Linked DNA regions of Homo sapiens: region 2 is linked to region 1. Evidence: fine-mapped expression QTL. Tissue or cell type: monocytes after LPS. Region 1 holds a variant in brackets; the other region holds the start of a gene. All regions are shown on one strand. Distances are between the middles of the regions.

Evidence for each region. PIP is the estimated chance that this variant, and not a neighbour inherited with it, causes the effect.
Region 2: it holds the start of LINC00917, and the variant in region 1 is the best candidate, but not a certain one, in a credible set for the expression of LINC00917 in monocytes after LPS (Quach 2016, PIP 0.75).

The regions. Positions count from the first base shown.
Region 1 is chr16:86,386,363-86,389,121 of GRCh38, reverse strand. No RefSeq gene overlaps it. Among named protein-coding and RNA genes, the nearest start is that of LINC00917, 42 kb to the right of the region's middle. The variant C/T (reference allele first, on the strand shown) is at 1,458.
Region 2 is chr16:86,344,292-86,347,050 of GRCh38, reverse strand. LINC00917 (long intergenic non-protein coding RNA 917) reads left to right here and starts at 1,372. Exons shown (of 7, transcript NR_024406.1): 1 at 1,372-1,559.

The DNA.
Region 1 (2,759 bases):
GTTCTCGGAGAATTCTCCTGTTTTTGTGGCAGAATCTGGCTGTGGTCACAGGTGATGGGCCAGATTTGTCCTACAGACTATGGTTTGCTCACCTCTGGCTTGGAGCACTGGCTTAAGCATCAGATTACATGATTTTCTAGCTGTCAGACCTTTGGGAAATTATCTGAGAGCCTCAGTTGTGCCACCTGTAGAATGGAGATAAGGATTCTATGTAAAGCACTGGGTTGTTGAGAGAATTAAATGAGTTGATGTATGTGAGATGCTGAACATAGAGCCAAGCAGGAAGAGTCCAAGGTCATGGGAGTCGTGGCTGAGATTAGGATGATGGAGATGATGATAGAGGGAGGGGAGCTGGGTCTCAGTGGAGCACTGGCTGGGAAGTCAGAAGCCTGGTTTCTATACTCTCCTTAGCTGCTGACTCTGGGGGACCTGGGTGAATCCTTCCTCCTCTCTGGCTTCAGTTTTGTCACCTTGCAGGTGAGGAAGTTGGACTGAGGAGTGTCCAGGCTTCCTTCCTACTCAATAACTCTGGGATTCTATAGTGCCCTTTAAAAGATATGGCATTGCGCAGTCGGCACTCGCTAAAATCAGTGCCATATTAACCATTGCACCCACTGACACCTCAAAGCCAAGGCCTCCCGCCGTCTGAAAACCTGGTCTTCATCAGAAAGTCCCCATCGCTGCTCTGTGAGGCCGCTCGTTCATTTACTCATTGGTGTGTTTGTTCAGAAGTGATCAAGCCTCCTACCACATGCAGCGCAGATGCTGAAGCTACCAGGGCGAGGATAACCAAAGTCTCTGCCCTCGTGTGACTGGCTCTCATGAGAAATCCCCTTTGTAGGGAACAAGTCTGATCCGGCCGTGGTCACTGCAGGGAGCGAACGAGTCTGATCCATCTGTGGTCACTGAAGTGGGTGAACGAGTCTGATCCGGCTGTGGTCACTGCAGTGGGGTGAATTGTGTCCCTGAAAAAGATGTGTCCACATTCTAATCTTCCAGACCGCACGAATATGAACTTATTTGGAAATAGAATCTTCATAGACATAATTAAGATAAGGATCTTGAGATGAGATCGTCTTGAACTTACGGTGGGTTGTAAAGCCGATGACAGGTGTCCTCATAAGAAGCAGAAGAGAAGACACAGACACACATAGAGGAGAGGCCACATGAAAACGGAAGCAGAGATGGGAGTGATGCATCCACAAGCCAGGGAATGCCTGGGGCCACCAGGAGTTGGAAGAGGCAGGAAGGATCCCCGCTGGAGGCTTCAGAGGGAGCAGGGCTCTGCGGATGACTTGACTTCAGACTTCTGGCCCCCAGAACTGGGGGGAATACATTTCTCTTGTCTTTTGCCACCCAATTTGTGGTAACTATTGTGGTGGCCACAGGCCGCTCACGCAGTCACCATGTGTGGGCTGCTGGGAGCTGTTCTCCAGGCCCTCCCTCTGAGTCACTCT[C/T]GCCTCACACAGGATGCTTACGTCCCTGGAGGAAATGCCATCTCTTGATAAGTGGAAATACTTTTTGGGTGAAGAAATTGTAAGCACACACTTGTTAGTGAGGTTCAATGCTCTGTTTCAGTTCCTGGGTCAATGGCTGGTGCAGAAAGGATGTTTCAGATTCAGGGTGATACGTGGACCAAGGAATTCAGCCAAGTATGTGTTAAGCCAGGAAGTGATTTCTATGTGTCTGTGTTATTATTTAATTAAAAATATGTTAATATTTTTATTAATAACATTAATTAAAATGTTATTATAGAATATTATTACCATATGTGTTAGTATTTTTTATTTGTTAGGAATCAAAAATAAGTTTTTGTGAAGTTGTGAAAGCTATACAACCTAATGTATAGTACCATAGATTATAATCAATTAACTTTTCATATCATATCTTTTTCTTCTAGTTGTTACCTTTTTTTGGTTTGTTTTGGGATTTATCACTAATTCATTTATTCATTCATTTATTCATTCATTCAATTTTGATCAATAAATTGTTATTATGGGTGCCCAGAGGCCTCAGGAAACCCGTCTGATTATTCCAACTTGGAAAAGTAATTTCACCTTCTAAGCTTCGGTTTCCTTGTTTATAAAATGGAGCTCAAACAAGGGGCTCTAGTTGTGTGAAGATGAAACCGGAACCTACGTCTCTGGGTGCTGTGACGTCGCAGGAGGTGCCCCGAGCTCCCAGGAGGCGCCCCGAGCATGTTTCTCCCTTGTTTTCCCGTTTAGGGCTGACAGTGGTGCTGCTTACTGAAGTAACACCTCTGATGTTTTCTCAAGCTGTTTGCTCGCTCGAGGTCTCAGATGCTGGCCAGTCCTGTTCAAGGTCAAGGTCAGACACCTGGTGGAAGTGGCCAGGTGCGACTGAGACCTAGCTGTGCCTGACTTCTAAGAGGCGCAGCCCTGCTCCCTGAGATTCCCCCTAATCCAAGCCCCCAGCTGGGGCCTGGGGCCACGTGGACATCTCCCACCTTGCTGGCCATGGGCTCATTGGACTGGCACTGCCACCCTTCTCTGGATGTGATGCGTCTTTCTGTGAGCTGGGCAATGTCGAAGACTCTGTGTTGGTTTAAGATGCATCACTTACCTTCAATTATTAGACACTCACTGGGCACCTCCTCTGTTCCGTGTGGGGACAAGAGGCTGAAGCACCCAGTCCTGCCTCCCAGGCTGCAAGTGACATTGCAGGGCCTTCAGCCCTCCCTACAAGTGACTCTCCACCACTCTTCATGAGACAAGGTCATTCCCTGAACTCCCAATTCT
Region 2 (2,759 bases), 42 kb after region 1:
GGGCTGGGGTCAAACAAGCCTGGGTTCAAATCCTGTCCCACCCTTGCTTGTTCTGTGACCTCGGAAGTCAGTTCCCCTCTCTGAGCTTCCTTTGTCTCATCTGTAAAATGGGGACAAAATATAAAATGTAAAAATACAAACCAGGAAGTTGGAAGTCATACACTTTCTGATTTCAAAAGTTACTAGAAAACTATGACAATCAAAACACTGTGGTCCTGACCTACATACAGACAGATAGACCAATGGGACAGAACACAGAGCCCAGAAAGAAGCCCTTTGACTTATTTGACATTCAAGTGTCTTGAGCCAAGACCCTTCAGTGGGGAAAGGGCAGTCTTTTCAAAAAATGGTATTTGGAAAACCAAATACCACACGCAGAAGAATGAAGTTGAGCCCTTCTCTTACACCAGATACAAAAAATTAACTCAAAAAGGATCAAAGGCATTACCATAATAACTAAATGTAAAAAAACTACAAAACTCTTAGAAGAAAACATAGGGGGAAAGCTTCACAATGTTGGACTCGGCAGTGGCTTCTTGGCCACGACACCCAAGAACAGGCAAGAAAAGGAAAAACAATTAAATCCATGCAAACACGTGTGCACAAATGTCCTCAGAGCGCTATTCCTAACAGCCAAATGCTGAGAGCAACGAAAATGTTCATTGACAGGAGAATGGATAAACAAAACGTGGTCCATCCATACAGTGGAATATTATTCAGCCTTAAAAAGGAAGGAAGTTCTGACACCTGCTATGACATGAGTGAGCCTTGAGGATATGGTGCCGAGTGAAACAAACCACTCATAAAAGGACAAACATTGTATAATTCCACAGACATGACTTGCCTAATGTCAGCAAATTCTCAGAGATAGAAAATAGCAGGTGGCGGAGGGCTGCTCAGGGTTACGGGGATGGGGGTGGTGTTTAACAGGGACCTTCCTGAGCTATTTCCTGATAGCAGCTGGGAGCCTTTTGAACAGCCTGCAGCGGGATTCTGGAACAATCTAAACTGGCCATGGCAGTTCCAGGGGCAGGGCTGACTTTGAACTCCAGCAGGAAGTGCAGTGCGAGGCCAGCTCACCCACTTCAGCGTCTCTTTCCTTTGTGTTGTTTAGACCCCCAAAAACACCCCCAAGTCCTGTCTCCCCTTGTGGAGGAAAGGCTGGTGGGAGGAAAGAAGGCTTGTTGAGTATCTACTGCACACCCGGCCCTGGGGCTACGGCTGGAAGCTGGACAGGCCGGGTCCTTGCCCTCCTGAGACCTGCCTTCTAGTGGGGAGAGAGATAGAGACGGAGGAAACAAAACACAGACCAGAGGATTTCAGAGGGTCTGAGGGCTCCGAGGAGAAGGAACACGATGATGTCATAGAGTCATTGTGGGGGAGGGGCCGGCCAGCCAGGGCAGGCAGGGGCGGCCTCTCTGACGAGAAGGAGGCCACTGGGCTGAGGCCAATGAATGGGAAAGAGCCAGCCATGTGGTGAGCTGGGAGAGGGCATCCCAGGCCGTGCGACCTGCGCTTGCAAAGGCCCTGGGGCCGGACAGTTCTTGGCAGAGTCTGAGGTACAGGATGATCCCTGGATGAGCGCCTGAGTGCACGAAGCATGGGTGGAGAGGGTCAGCTCCCAGCGTGGCTGCAGGAGGGGGTCGTGTAATGAATACTAAGTGCCAGTTCTGCAGGATGGAAACAGTTTTGAAATTGGACGGTGGCGATGGTGGTGCGATAATGCGAATGGACCCAATGCCACTGAAATATTCACTTTAAAAAAGTTAAAATGGCAAGGTTTACATTAACTAGACTTTGCCATAATAAAAGAAAAAGGAAAAAATATAATAACTGTGTGAAGTTGAGATGAAATGATGCAACTAATAATTTAGTTTGGTTAGCAAAGAGTAGGCACTCACATAGTTCAATATAACCATCATTATGACGGTACCCTGTCAGTGCTGGGGGATGCTTTATGAGGGAGGTGGAAGACGAGGAGGAGGCGGAGAGAGAAAGAGAATCAGCTTCTGTTATCCACAGCAGGATGCCTCTGGAGTTGTTTGAAGTAGAAAGGTAGTCCATGTGATCCCGTTTATATTGTAATATTGCTTGAGTAGGTCTTTAAAATTACAAAGTACTAGATAGAGCTAACTCAGCCCAGTCCTAATAATCACGACTCCTTGAGTATCTGTGAGGCTTCTGGTACGTTCTCTACAGTCCCAACATTGGGACCGACTGAACCATGTGTTGCACATTAAATCCAGGGTCCGGGACACCTCCCAGGCCACCTCTGTCATTTCACAAGTGCCAGGCCATCTTCTCAGTGCTTGTGAGCATCCCTTCACACTCAATCCTTCCCACACACCTGCCAAAGGGAAGGAGGCAGGAACCACCTACGGATGCCAAGAAACAGGCGGCATGGTCCTCCCGCCCTCGAGGCTGTTACCACCTGGAACACCCCACCCCAAAAGTAAGACCACCTACCATCTGGGCTTCTGTCTCACACAGGATATAGCCTCTCAGTGGCCAACTGTTTTTAATAAGGGTCTGCCAGTTCTAATGATATTGCACAGACACGGGGAAGGGGAGAGAGGAGACAGGACTTTGTCATGAGCTGTTCATCCCTCCAACAGCAGTGCTGGTGTCACGGCTGATGGGCAAAATTCCTACAGATGCCTTCTCTTAGAAACTCACTTCCCTCTGGAACCAGACGCAGGCTTCTCCAGGAAACAGCTCACTACCTGACACAATCCCCAACCCCCCTCTGTCTTCTTTTC